4 linked regions of the Homo sapiens genome follow. The protein of the gene in region 1 purifies or fractionates together with the protein of each later gene. This does not show direct contact. Each region holds a gene or a part of one and is shown in the gene's direction. Other genes may lie near its edges.

The links. The genes of interacting proteins can lie anywhere in the genome.
Region 2: the proteins of ELOVL1 (region 1) and HPRT1 purify together in Homo sapiens (affinity purification with mass spectrometry; one large-scale study listed by BioGRID and IntAct). This does not show direct contact.
Region 3: the proteins of ELOVL1 (region 1) and UBE3B purify together in Homo sapiens (affinity purification with mass spectrometry; one large-scale study listed by BioGRID and IntAct). This does not show direct contact.
Region 4: the proteins of ELOVL1 (region 1) and DHFR purify together in Homo sapiens (affinity purification with mass spectrometry; one large-scale study listed by BioGRID and IntAct). This does not show direct contact.

Annotation. Positions count from the first base shown.
Region 1 is NC_000001.11:43,365,212-43,369,262, reverse strand, and holds the start of ELOVL1 (very long chain fatty acid elongase 1), read left to right. Parts: upstream 1-1,251; 5' UTR 1,252-1,348; intron 1,349-1,548; exon of another isoform or gene 1,549-1,777; intron 1,778-3,639; 5' UTR 3,640-3,653; coding exon 3,654-3,699; intron 3,700-3,886; coding exon 3,887-4,051. UniProt on the Homo sapiens protein: Catalyzes the first and rate-limiting reaction of the four reactions that constitute the long-chain fatty acids elongation cycle.
Region 2 is NC_000023.11:134,498,165-134,501,168, forward strand, and holds the end of HPRT1 (hypoxanthine-guanine phosphoribosyltransferase), read left to right. Parts: intron 1-225; coding exon 226-272; intron 273-443; coding exon 444-520; intron 521-1,865; coding exon 1,866-1,913; 3' UTR 1,914-2,504; downstream 2,505-3,004. UniProt on the Homo sapiens protein: Converts guanine to guanosine monophosphate, and hypoxanthine to inosine monophosphate. Transfers the 5-phosphoribosyl group from 5-phosphoribosylpyrophosphate onto the purine.
Region 3 is NC_000012.12:109,498,134-109,501,633, forward strand, and holds part of UBE3B (ubiquitin-protein ligase E3B), read left to right. Parts: intron 1-99; coding exon 100-220; intron 221-1,499; coding exon 1,500-1,677; intron 1,678-3,237; coding exon 3,238-3,401; intron 3,402-3,500. UniProt on the Homo sapiens protein: E3 ubiquitin-protein ligase which accepts ubiquitin from an E2 ubiquitin-conjugating enzyme in the form of a thioester and then directly transfers the ubiquitin to targeted substrates.
Region 4 is NC_000005.10:80,637,984-80,641,483, reverse strand, and holds part of DHFR (dihydrofolate reductase), read left to right. Parts: intron 1-3,474; coding exon 3,475-3,500.

The DNA of each region.
Region 1 (4,051 bases):
CTCCCAAAGTGCTGGGATTACAGGCGTGAGCCACCGCGCCCGGCCTTTTTTTAAAAAAATGTGTTTATTTTCCTTGCGGAGCAGGGCTGCCCCATAAGCAGTGTGCCCAGAGTAGCCCAAATTCCCTAATTCTGTCCGCACTTACACCATCCAATCATACAAGCAGTTGTTAGATCGTTGTGTGCTACTGTTCCAGGGGCCGCTGGAGGTAGAAATTCCATTTCACTAAAATCTAGTCTGTCCTTTGCCCCCACTAGTTGAGTCCAGTTAGTGAGTGTGGAGGTGGGGGCTGGAGGTGTAGAAGAGATAAATAAATATATAGAGAGCCAGTCCAGCTGTCTGGAGGACATTGTCCGCCTCCTCCAATCCCATCAGTTGCCACATCTTCTTTGGTCAGGCTGGCTTTCTCACCTGGTCTCCTTTCTGTGCCCTCCTCACACTGGCTGCCAAAGTGATTCAGCCAGATAGACTGCAAGCCCCGTGAGTGCACGGACGGTGGGTGGTCCATAAACGTCTGATGAACTAATGATACAAGCTTGAATATAGTCTCCTAAAAAAATCTTTAGTTTCTCCTCTGCTTCTAGAATAAAAATCAGATCGCCCCATTTGGCCTTCAAGACCTACTACATTCAGCCACAGTCAGCTTCATTTCCCTTTTTTCCTTTCACTACCTCGAAGGCCAGATTAGCCAGTGATTCACTATGCTTGCCCCGGGCCACTTGTATCCTCTCACCTCCGTTCCAGGCAGCCCTCGCAGCAGATCCTAACGCTTAGGGCTCCTCCAAGTGTACAGGCTCGTGAGGCTTCCCTCCCGCTAAGACCAGTGCGCCCTCAGCACACGCAGTGTGGTCTCGCCCGCCGCTCTGCGCTCGCCCTGCAGGAGAGGGAGCTCTTTGAAGGCAAGGCCGAACCTCCCCCGAGCCCTGAGCTGGGCCTGCCGCCACAGATGTGCAGTCCTGCCGGGGAGCAGTCACCCGGGGACAGGGCCGGGCCCCGGGCTGCACGTCGGGAAGAGACAGCGTGCTCCTGAGGTGGCCAGGCCGCTGCAACTGGCCAGGGCGGGCCCGGGCGGCGAGGGAAGGGGTGGGAAGCCCGGGCCGCGGCGCTTCCTGCTGGGACCCGGCGGCACGCCCCTGCCCCCGCCCCGGCCGAGCCTGCGCTGCCGGCCTCCGGCCCTGCCGGCCGCCCAATCAGCGGGCGCCCCCCGCGCGGCCCGCCCCTCCCCCTCTGGTGACAGAAAGTCGGCCCAGCAGATGAGGAAGTGGCAGGCAGGCAGGCTGGCCCCGGGGACTTCTCTCTGGCCCTGCTCCCTCCGAGCGCTCCGCCGTTGCCCGCCTGGCCCCTACGGGTGAGTCTGGACCTTCCACGGACTCTCCACGTGCCGGCGCCCCCTGCCTGGCCAGCCCGGCCCAGCCCGGCCCAGCCCTGCCCTGCCCTGCCCAGGCTGTGGGCGAGGGTGTTCCCGGGGCCAGTGGGTGGGAGGTCCCAGCTCCCTGGGGCCGGGCCTCGCCAGCACCCTCCCTCCCCCACACCCCCGTCTCTGGCCCCCATTTGCCTACACCCGGGCCTTCCTCCACCACCCCTGCATTTACCTCTCTCCCTCCTCCTCTCCCCTCCCTCCCCCCGCTACCCTAACTTTGCCAGGCACCTTTTCCCTTCCATCCATCTTAAAGGAAGGAAGGGACGGGCTGAGTTCCCCGACGAGAGACACACCCAGATTTTCCTGCAGCTTGGGGAGAGGTCCTCCCAGGAGCCTTGGTCCCTCCTGGCCTGCCGGGTGTGTGGGTTGATATTGGGGGCTGGTGGTTGAGAGATAACAGGCTGGCTGGCTCCCATGTGTCAGGGAGGAACCTGTGTTGGCGCCCTCGCCCCGGCCTGGGCCCTGCCGGCGATGGGCGGCCAGCAAGCCCGATGGTGGGGGAGCAAGTAAGGAGGGGATCCGAGCGTGGCCAGGCAGCGCGCACACGTGTGTGAGTGGCCCCGCGGGTGAGCCCGTGCGTGTGCCTGGGCGGTGGCCGAGCTGCGTGAGGGCCGGGAGCCATGCGTGTCAGCCCACGGAGGTGTTGCGTGGTGTGTCAGGCAGGAGACGTGTGTGCCAGCCCTCGGCGTGGCACCTTCGCTGTTGGGGGTGGAGAGCTAGGTGAGAGGTGGGTGTGGACCGCAGGCTTGGGGCCTGACCACGGTGGGCCTAAAGAAGCCGGGCCTCCTGGAGGTGAGGGGTGTGCGGGGCAGGGAGGTGTCAGAGGTGCGCCTCTTCACTTGGCATCTGCAGAGGTGCTTCTCTGGAAGCAGGGAGTCTGGGGCACCTGCTGCCCTGGGCCCTGCTCTGTTCCAAGAATGCCTTGTCCCTCAGGGACTGTCAGTACCATGCTCTCCTGGGTCTGGCCAGAGGCTTTTGTGTCCCTGGGAGCCTTCCCCCGACATTCCTTCAGGCCCTGAGGGGGAGGGGGCCTAGCCCAACGGGGCCCCTCCCTGAGGGAGGGGAAGATTCCTGCGACCTCCCCCACTCCCCAACCCCTTCACATGCCACTGGCTTCCCTGCCCTTCCCAGGAAGGGAAGAGTGATTGTACCCATTCTGAAGTAGGACAAACTGAGCAGTTATGGCCGGCTTAGGAGAGGATGCTGGGTGTGGATTTTCAGCAGTGCTTTGGGCCAGGGCTGGGGCTGGGGCTGGGGTCAGAGGAGGTTTCTGGCTCAGAATCTAGGACCTTAGCTCATCAGGCTGGTCCCACGTGGGTGGGTGGGTGGCGAGTCTGGGGCTTTACTTGGCTTTCCCAATCCTGGTGGGTCCTGCTCCCCCAGGCACTGACCTGTGGCCCGGACCCACCCTCCACCCCCTGCACAGTACAGCAGGGGCGGGCAGAGGGCGGGGCTGCTGCCAGATCTAGTCAGACAGGTGGAGCCGCCGGGGCAGGAGTCTCAAAGAGCCAGGCTCCAGGAGAGGAAGGGCTCTGCGAGAGGAGAGAGGAGAGCGCTGGAGAGGAGAGGCTGGAGGTGAGAGTCCCAGGAAAGGCAGAGGAGAATCGTAGGGACATAAGTGTCCCAGCACAGGCAAGGAGGAATCCGAGGATAAGGTTCTGGAGGGACAGAAGGGCCCAGAGAGGTGAGAGTCCTGGCAGGGACAGGAGGGACCCTGGGGAGAAGAGAGTTCAGGAAGGGTCCAGAGGGATGGGAAGAGGAGAGGGCAGGAGAGGAGAGATTGAAGGGGAGAATCCCTGGAGAGAAGAAAGACCCAGAGCTGGGGAGGTGAGGGACTCGGGTGAGGAAGGGAGACGGAGTTCAAGAGCTCCCTGTTGGTGAGAAGGTAAGATTCTCCAGTAAGAGACCTGGAATTGAGAGTTATCTTGTGGAGGAAGAGGGGAAGGGAGGCCAGGAAGTAAAACTGTGGAGAGGAGAGGAGAGTAAGGTGTGGAGAGGAAGGGTGGAACAGCTCTTCCCAGGCAAGCAGGATGTGTGGGGAGCAGATGCCTCAACCAAACTGCCTCCTCCCCCTAGTTCCCAGTAATTCCTTCCTTTCACTGTTCTGTCCTTTCTGCAATGAGGCATTGCAGGTGTCTTGTCTGGTTCTGTGTCTTATCTCTGTGGGATGGGGGTGTGCAGTGGGATCTGTCTGACATCCGCCCTCTGTACCTCCCCAGAGTCCTTAGCCAGGATGGAGGCTGTTGTGAACTTGTACCAAGAGGTGATGAAGCACGCAGGTAAGACGCTATCCACCAGCCCTTTCCTTCCTTCTTTCCCGGGATCCCTGGATCTACGGCTGTCTTCTAATGGAGAGTTCCTATGAAACCCTTGATCCTGTGACCTGACCTCATGTCTGTAGACCCTTCAAATGAAGACCCTTCGAACCCTGTGACTCTTCCTGATTCCTTTGACCCTTATTCATAGATCCCCGGATCCAGGGCTACCCTCTGATGGGGTCCCCCTTGCTAATGACCTCCATTCTCCTGACCTACGTGTACTTCGTTCTCTCACTTGGGCCTCGCATCATGGCTAATCGGAAGCCCTTCCAGCTCCGTGGCTTCATGATTGTCTACAACTTCTCACTGGTGG
Region 2 (3,004 bases), on another chromosome or scaffold:
TGATCAACCAAGTGCCTTGTCTGTAGTGTCAACTCATTGCTGCCCCTTCCTAGTAATCCCCATAATTTAGCTCTCCATTTCATAGTCTTTCCTTGGGTGTGTTAAAAGTGACCATGGTACACTCAGCACGGATGAAATGAAACAGTGTTTAGAAACGTCAGTCTTCTCTTTTGTAATGCCCTGTAGTCTCTCTGTATGTTATATGTCACATTTTGTAATTAACAGCTTGCTGGTGAAAAGGACCCCACGAAGTGTTGGATATAAGCCAGACTGTAAGTGAATTACTTTTTTTGTCAATCATTTAACCATCTTTAACCTAAAAGAGTTTTATGTGAAATGGCTTATAATTGCTTAGAGAATATTTGTAGAGAGGCACATTTGCCAGTATTAGATTTAAAAGTGATGTTTTCTTTATCTAAATGATGAATTATGATTCTTTTTAGTTGTTGGATTTGAAATTCCAGACAAGTTTGTTGTAGGATATGCCCTTGACTATAATGAATACTTCAGGGATTTGAATGTAAGTAATTGCTTCTTTTTCTCACTCATTTTTCAAAACACGCATAAAAATTTAGGAAAGAGAATTGTTTTCTCCTTCCAGCACCTCATAATTTGAACAGACTGATGGTTCCCATTAGTCACATAAAGCTGTAGTCTAGTACAGACGTCCTTAGAACTGGAACCTGGCCAGGCTAGGGTGACACTTCTTGTTGGCTGAAATAGTTGAACAGCTTTAATATACAATAATTGTTGCATTATTATTTCAGATGATAAATGTGGTCATAAGTAAGAAATAAATGATCGAGTTTAGTCTTTTAATTCACTGTCCTTTGAATACCTGCCTCTTACTCTGGAGGCAGAAGTCCCATGGATGTGTTTATGAACATGGTTGAGGAAGATTTAGGAAGACTGCAACAGTACACTACCTAAAGCAGGTTTTTTACTCCATCTTTTTTTGCCACGTACACTGGCCTCCCACTTTGATATGCTTGAAATTATCTCCTTGATTTGTCTTTCAAAACTACATATTGAGGCTGGTTGCGGTGGCTCACACCTGTAATCCTAGCACTTTGGGAGGCCAAGCCGGACAGATCACTTGAGGTCAGGAGTTCGAGACCAGCCTGGCAAACATGATGAAACCCCACCTTTACTAAAAATACAAAAATTAGCCAGGCGTAGTGGTGTGTGCCTGTAACCCAGCTACCTGGGAGGCTGAGGCAGGAGAATCACTGGAACCCGGGAGGCAGAGGCTACAGTGAGCCAACATCACGCCACTGCACTCCAGCCTGGGTGACAGAGCAAGACTCTGTCTCAAAACAAAACAAAAAACAAAAAACTACGTATTAAGACAAGAAACAGACTGGGCGCGGTGGCTCACGCCTGTAATCCCAGCACTTTGGGAGGCTGAGGCGGGCGGATCACAAGGTCAGGAGATCGAGACCATCCTGGCTAACACGGTGAAACCCCGTCTCTACTAAAAAATAGAAAAAATTAGCTGGGGTGGTGGCGGGCGCCTATAGTCTCAGCTACTCGGGAGGCTGAGGCAGGAGAATGGCGTGAACCCGGGAGGCAGAGCTTGCAGTGAGCAGAGATCGTGCCACTGCACTCCAGTCTGGGTGACAGAGCAAGACTCCGTCTCAAAAAAAAAAACAAAAACAAGAAACAAATTAAACTAATGTGATAGACTACTGCTTTGTTTTCAAAAGATACACTCCCCAAAAGTTACTGATCTAAAATACAGTAGTACTATCTCTGTTTAGTAAGAACCCTGACAACTAATAGTGTTCTTATATGTAAAATGCTATTCTTGCCTTTCATTTCAGAATATACTTTTTAAATGTGAATTTCTGGATTTTTTTTTATAGCATGTTTGTGTCATTAGTGAAACTGGAAAAGCAAAATACAAAGCCTAAGATGAGAGTTCAAGTTGAGTTTGGAAACATCTGGAGTCCTATTGACATCGCCAGTAAAATTATCAATGTTCTAGTTCTGTGGCCATCTGCTTAGTAGAGCTTTTTGCATGTATCTTCTAAGAATTTTATCTGTTTTGTACTTTAGAAATGTCAGTTGCTGCATTCCTAAACTGTTTATTTGCACTATGAGCCTATAGACTATCAGTTCCCTTTGGGCGGATTGTTGTTTAACTTGTAAATGAAAAAATTCTCTTAAACCACAGCACTATTGAGTGAAACATTGAACTCATATCTGTAAGAAATAAAGAGAAGATATATTAGTTTTTTAATTGGTATTTTAATTTTTATATATGCAGGAAAGAATAGAAGTGATTGAATATTGTTAATTATACCACCGTGTGTTAGAAAAGTAAGAAGCAGTCAATTTTCACATCAAAGACAGCATCTAAGAAGTTTTGTTCTGTCCTGGAATTATTTTAGTAGTGTTTCAGTAATGTTGACTGTATTTTCCAACTTGTTCAAATTATTACCAGTGAATCTTTGTCAGCAGTTCCCTTTTAAATGCAAATCAATAAATTCCCAAAAATTTAACTGCTTTATGAATTCAATTTAAAAATCCTTAAAATAAGTCCTGTCTCTTTAAAAAAACCTATGCATAGTTATCATTTCTCTACAAATTAACCTAGTTTAGTTTTCTGTTGGTTCCATTTTCCTTGTTTGTTAAGTTTTAGTAGCTAGTTTAATTGTAATCTCAATGATTATGTGGTAGAATGGGTTGGCGGAGCTACAAAAATTCCTAGCTACTTCAGAGACATTAAATTTCAGACACATGGTACACTTTATATTACATTTTACTATGCTAAAATAACACGGCTTTCTTTTGGAATTCTGTTCAGTTTTTCAGATTGTAATCTCAGCTACATCTCAACAGATTGTTCTCAGATATGTCCTATTACCTTCTTTGTGTAGATAGTGCTTTATTGACTAAGAACAATGACAACAACACCTTTTGTTTTCTGGGAATAGGAGAAAAGTTTTAAGCCAAAACTCTTAATTGCTTATCTGCTCCACGTGAGGTATGAACTATCAAA
Region 3 (3,500 bases), on another chromosome or scaffold:
TCCTCCATAACCACGGGTGATCTGCAAGTGATCAAGTTCACTCTCTACAGGAAACTGTTTCTGGCAGTTTCTGATTTAACGGTCTGCTATTCTTTGCAGCGCCTCACTGTTTTAGAATCCCATGACATGCTTCGTAAATTCATCATATTTTTAAGAGACCAAGATCGATGCCGTGATGTATGTGAAAGTTTAGAAGGATGCCATACGCTTTGTCTAATGGGTAAGTATCCGTGGCTGGAACTTGATTGTGTCCTGGCCATCAGGGAAAGCCCGAGTGTTTTGCCTGTCACTATTCTAGAGATTTGGTTGTTTTCTGTAACAATTGGAAGTGCTTACAATAAAAAACACGTATTTAGATAGACAGTTAAAATAGACATGTAAATAAAAATCACATGGAAAATATTCCAGCCTGGCAAACTAGTTAAGTGACTGTTAATGAACATTAGATGTCAGCCTTTAGCTTCCTGGCAGTCAAGGAGAAAGTGAAAATGTGGTGAATTGCCTGGATAATTCCCATCTCAAGAGAGAAGGGAGGGAGTAGTTAGGTGGGGCTTATATCAGAGCAGCGCCTGCTTTACCTATTTTACAGTGTTTTCATTGTAGATGGAAGAAAGGGTTTATGAATAGAAGCATTTGAGGCAGAGGCACAGAATTCTCCTTGCCTAAATTTATTTTAGATAGGAAAAGTTTTTTTTGTTTTTTTTTTTTTGAAGACAGGGTCTCACTTTGTCACCCAGGCTGGACTGCAGTGGCACAGTCATGGCTCACTGCATCCTCTACCTCCTGGGCTTAGGTGATCCTCCCACCTCAGCCTCCTGAGTAGCTGGGACTACAAGCGCACACTACCACGGCCGACTAATTTTTGTATTTTTAGTGGAGACGGGGTTTTTCACCATGTTGCCCAGTCTAGTCTCCTTGGGCTCGAACAATCCACACGCCTCAGCCTGCGAGATTACAGACTTGAGATAAAAACTTCCCTGGGGCCAAATTTCATGAGGAGTTTCTGGTGCGAATGTTCACACGAGTGACGTTGACTAACTGGTGAACGTTGAATAACAGCGACTTCCCACGACACTCAGATACTCTTCAAAGACCATTTCTTATGTTAACCCTTGATTTTTAAGCATTAATATAATATTAAAATGTAACACTAACTAAATATCACCTACCTCTGTGTGCCTAACATTTTACCTGCCACTTCATCCTCATATGGAGAGTAGGGATCATCATTCCAATCTTACAAATGAAGAAACAAGTTTGAGACATGGGTTGACGGCCACGGCTCACCTTGTCTGTGGCATAGCCAGGATTTGAAGTCAGCTTGGCCCGTTTCTTACCTTTGCACCACACAGCAGCCTCCGGCATTGACAGGTGCCCCTTATGTGGAAATTTCTTGCTGCACATGGGATGTGGCCGCCTGAGCCACAGGCAGGGAGCAGGGCCGGGAGGCACCAAAATGTTTGTCTGGGCCCATCACACTCAGCCTTCTCTCTCTGTAGGCAACCTCCTACACTTGGGCTCCCTCAGCCCCAGAGTGTTAGAGGAGGAGACAGATGGGTTCGTGAGTTTGCTCACCCAGACGCTGTGCTACTGTCGGAAGTATGTGTCTCAGAAGAAGTCCAACCTGACCCACTGGCATCCTGTCCTTGGCTGGTTCTCCCAATCTGTGGATTATGGGTGAGTCCCAGATGCAAATCACTGTCTTTCCTGCCTCTCTCCCACCATCTTCTTCTTCCTTCTTTCTTTCTTCCAGCTTGTGGTGTTTTGTTTCTTATTATAAAAATAATATGTATTCATTATATATTAATAAATTGTGAGTAAGAACAAAAGAGGATAAAAACCAGCCCATTATCCTGTAAACCAAAGATAACTTGAGTGAACATCCTGTCAGTTTTCCTATCTAGAAATACTGATCCTTTTTTACAAAATTGAAATCCTATTATTTTGTATTTTGTTCCTTCCATTCAGCTATGGACCTTATCAATGTTTTTTCTTCTTCACTGTCACTTTTTGACTAGACTGCCATATTTTGGAGATGCTAAAACAAGACAAATGATTCAAAGGGAATAGAAATCACCCAAAATCCTTTTCAAGAGGTGGAATATAAATTTTTAAAAGTGTAATTATGAACTTAAAAACATGAGAAACACTAGACTAGAAGAAGGGAGATCAAGTAAGGTGCAGCTTCATGAATTTGAAATATCTACCTGAGCTGAGATAAAGTGGTTTCTGGAGAGGAACCAGCTCTGCTGCCCCAGCTGTTTTCTTGTTCACATATCTGCTCGAGGCATGGGGTCCCTGGCAGTTACCCTTGCAGCAGAAAACTAAAGGCCTGGGGAGGAAATCCCCAAATTTTTCTTTTGTTGTACCTGAGTGACATCCCTGGGTCCTATCTAGTTAAAAAGACTCATTGCTAGGGAACAGCCTGCCCCAGCGTGACACCTCAGCCTGAGGAGGATGGGGCGGAGGTGCTGAGAGTCAGGAGGCTGTGGGAGGTAAGTGAAGGAGAGCAGCACCTCCGCAGACAGCCTGCTCTCCGCTCCACTTCCTCTTCTTGGAGGGACTTGGACGACTTGCTTTGCCTTGCTTTCCTCATCTGAAACCTGGGGATAATTTTCACCCTCCCTTTGATAGGGCTTTCTAGAAAGATTGAATGAGATAATGCATGTGAAGCACCTACCAGCAGGCAGGCCTGGCCGTACTCAGGGGTGGCGGCTATTAACAATATGATGATCAATGTGGGAACCACTAGGAGTCTCACCTCACCTTCTTGAGCAGGAAGGTGACAGCAGATTCCAGGAAGTTGAGGGATGCTGAGTGCAGTGTGGAGTCAGGCAAGGAACCCCTGGAATGCAAGGAAACACTGAGGAGGCTGCTGAGTCATCTAGATTTGGCCCCCCACCACCTGCAAGCCAGCTATGAGGAGGGAGGCAGTGCAGTGGGTACAAGATTGTTTTTGTCACCTGGGTGGTAGCAAGTGTCTTCGAGAAGAGTGTGACTCATGGAGCTTGGGGACCTGGGGAAAGCAGACAAGATGAAGAGTCAATGCCCTTGACGTACCAGCCCCTCAGCAATGATTTGTTAGTTCCACTTTTTATTTTTGTAATCTTCTTTGCCATGTTGAGTGCCAGGTCCTAGCTACAGCTCCGAGTGGAAGGCCATTAGGAACTGTGTGGGCTGGCCCTGGCCCTGCATCAGATGGAACTGACAGACCAGGTCTCCTCTGCTCTCTCCTAGCCTTAACGAGTCAATGCACTTGATCACCAAACAGCTGCAGTTCTTGTGGGGGGTGCCTCTGATCCGGATCTTCTTCTGTGACATCCTGAGCAAGAAGCTACTGGAGAGCCAGGAGCCAGCCCACGCACAGCCAGCATCCCCTCAGAATGTGCTCCCAGTGAAGAGTGAGTGACGGGAGCAGGCCCAACCCTGTAGCTCCACTTGGCTGAAGTACAGCTCCTGTTTCTTCCTATATGGATGTTCCGCTGTGTTTGTGGGATGCT
Region 4 (3,500 bases), on another chromosome or scaffold:
TACTTGCAACAGTAACAGCAAGATCCCCAAAACGTATTTTAATAATGAAAAAGCCTGAAATATTGTGGAAATTACCAAAAGGTAACAGAGATAGAAAGTGAACACATGCTGTTGGAAAAACTTCACCAGTAGACCTGCTCAGTGCAGGGTTGGCACAAACCTTCAATTTGTAAAAAAGAAAAACACCTTTATATCTGTGAAGCACAGTAAAATGAGGTATGGCTTAGTAGGGAACCCCATTTTTAAAGGCTCAGTATGAAGGGTCTTAAATTGAAGATGTATTTTTGCGTTCTGGTTAAGACACTATTCCATTTCAGGGTTTTTTGTTTTTAAGTGGTTTCCCAACACTCCTCAGGGAAATTGAGCAAGAATTCCATCGGCAGTCCTCACATCAGGAACAGTGAAAAAGGATAATGTTTATATGGCACCCGAGATAATCAGATAAGGCCAGAAGACAAGAGTCAGAGGGTTCTGCCTAATCTAAGCCCCACCATCCTGATGTTTAAGGGCCCCTGAATCGGAGGACCCTGCCACAGGCACCAACTGAAGTCTTTTGTCCATGTAACAAATTGCAGCTCAAGTTTCAAAGTCAAATCTGTTGGAGTTCAACTCGGAGGTCCATCATTTCCCGGCTGTGTGACCAGTAGTTTCTTAACCATTCAGCCTCAGTTTCCTCATCTATAAAAAGGAATGATAGTACCACGTACAATTGCCAGTTAAATGCAGTGTGTACATTATCTCATTTAGTCTTCATGCAAACCTTCAAGACTCAATCACAAAGAAATGTCCACACATTTCTTAACAAAGAATACATATGCTACTACATACCAACTCTCCTTTGTCAGGGAATCCAATCTAGATTGGTTTAAAATAATTATAGGAAAGAAATTCAGCAGTGAAATATGTGACTATATTGGATGCTTGCTATTTGTCATTTACTGTATTTCTAGCGCTTGTGCCATGTAAGGGCTGATGAACTCAAACCGTAGCTCAGCTTTTTGCATGCTCTTTTTTACCCACCTAGAGGTCCAGTGTTTCCTGTGATACTTACCTCTAAACTGCTAAATAGCCACATTTTACGGAAGCATATTCTTCATACCTTTGCTCTAACTTAAATCTCTAACTTTGCACTATATTTAATATGGGTTTTTTGGGGGGAAGGGGGGAGTGGAGTTGGTTTTTTTTGAGACAGAGTCTCGCTGTCTCGCCCAGGCTGGAGTGCAGTGGCACAATCTCAGCTCACTGCAAACTCTGTCTCCTGGATTCAAGCGATTCTCCTGTCTGAGCCTCCCAAGTACCTGAGATTACAGGCACGTGCCACCACACCCAGCTAATTTTTCTATTTTTAATAGAGACGGGGTTTCACTTTGTTGGCCAGGCTGGTCTGGAACTCCTGACCTCCCGTGATCCGCCCATCTCAGCCTCCCAAAGTGCTGGGATTACAGGCGTGAGCCACCACACCTGGCTAATCTGTTCTTCACTTTCTTTTCTATACTCACTACAAAAAAGGGCAAGGAAGTCTTCACAGCTGCACTTACTAACACCGTCACGGCTCTGTTTTGGCCATCATCTGTTTATTAACTAAACTCTCTTCTCTCCCAACTCCAAATCTTTGTTTCTTCTAGATTGAGTTCTCTCCCTGAAGAGCCTAATCCAACCTGGTCCCTGTAACTGCCCTGATACCTTAGGAGATACCTGGGCTTATTTAACTTCTCTCTGGCCACCATGTCTTTTTCCAGCCTGAGTCAAAGTATATTCTTTGCTCTAACCTAATTCTTTTAAGAATGACAGAGTAAAATAAGTAAAATTTATATGAGGAGGGAGAGGGAGGAGGCAATCAAGAGAATGAATAGTCCCTATTCTTGATTAATCCTTATTATAACTATGAGTTCAAGGGCAATTATATAATCTTGTTAAAGCACCAGGCTAAAAACTTGACATGGAATTGTAATTTCTGTTGTGTATCTAATTACTATGAAAGCCTAGTTCTACCTGTTTCATCATTTATAAAGGGAATTGCAACCCCCACCACGACCAACAAAGTAGTTTCAGAGATTGGGAGGGACTAAGCTAGTCAATGTAAACCAAGCTTGTCCAGCCCATGGCCCGCAGGCCTCAGTGTGGCCCAGGATGGCTTTGAATGCTGCCCAACACAAATTAGTAAATTTCCTTAAAACATGCACAGATCTTTTTTTTTTTAAAGCTCATCAGCTATTGTTAATGTTTGTGTATTGTATGTGTGGCCCAAGACAATTCTTCTTCCAATGTGGCCAAGAGAAGCCAAAATATTGGACCACCCCTGAGTAAACACTGAAATTAATTAACTTCTTCCCTTTTGGATTTTAATTACATAAGTAATAATAAGCTCATTTTTTAATACTTCACCCATTCCTGTATTGTTTGAAACATAAATCCTTTCCCCATTCCCAAAGGTAACAACATATTAACAGTCTGAATGTCATTCCAAGCTTTTCTGCAGTCATTCAAACATATCACTCTTTTTCTAATATTAGGAAAATCTTCACACATACAGAAAGAACTTTACAGTAAACTCACCACCTAGATCTACCATTAACATTTTACTCTACTAGTTTCATCACATTTCATCCATCAATTGGTCTTGTTCATTTTTGCATTTCATAATAAACTGCAGACATTAGTATATTTCCACCTAAATACTTCATCATTCATACCATTAATGATTCAGTCTTGGCCGGGTGCGGTGGCTCACGCCTGTAATCCCAGAACTCTGGGAGGCCAAGGCGGGCAGATCAGCAGGTTAGGAGATTGAGACCATCATGGCTAACACGGTGAAACCACGTCTCTTCTAAAAATACAAAAAATTAGCCGGGCGTGGTGGCAGGCACCTGTAGTCCCAGCTACTCAGGAAGCTAAGGCAGGAGAATGGCATGAACCTGGGAGGCGGAGCTTGCAGTGAGCTGAGATCGCGCCACTGTACTCCAGCCTGGGCTACAGAGCAAGACTCCGTCTCATTCATAAATAAATAAATAAATAAAATGATTCAGTCTTTCTTTACAGTTTTTTTCTGAAGTAAATATTACATGAGACACACGTCTTAAATGTACATTTGCTAAGTTTTGATAAATGTATACACCTGTGTAACCCCAGCCCTATCAAAGATACAGAATATTACCTATCACCCCCAGAAAGTTCTCTCCTGCCCTGTCCAAGTTAATCTTTATCCCACCCCTCCAGAAATAACTACTATTCTGATGTTTTTCCACCAGAGATATCACAAGATATCACATGGTTTTATGATTCATTGTGAACCACAGATGTACAAATATAGGTTAAATTATTGGTCAGAGGCCATACTGATGTTAAGTGCTTTTTGTTGAAAGGATTCATATTTATGATGATTTTAGTTCTATAGTCACTGCATCTTAGTCAGATTATTTGACTAGTATGGATGGATTTTACAAACATTTTGTGGAATTCTTTTTTTAACCTTAGGGAACCTCCACAAGGAGCTCATTTTC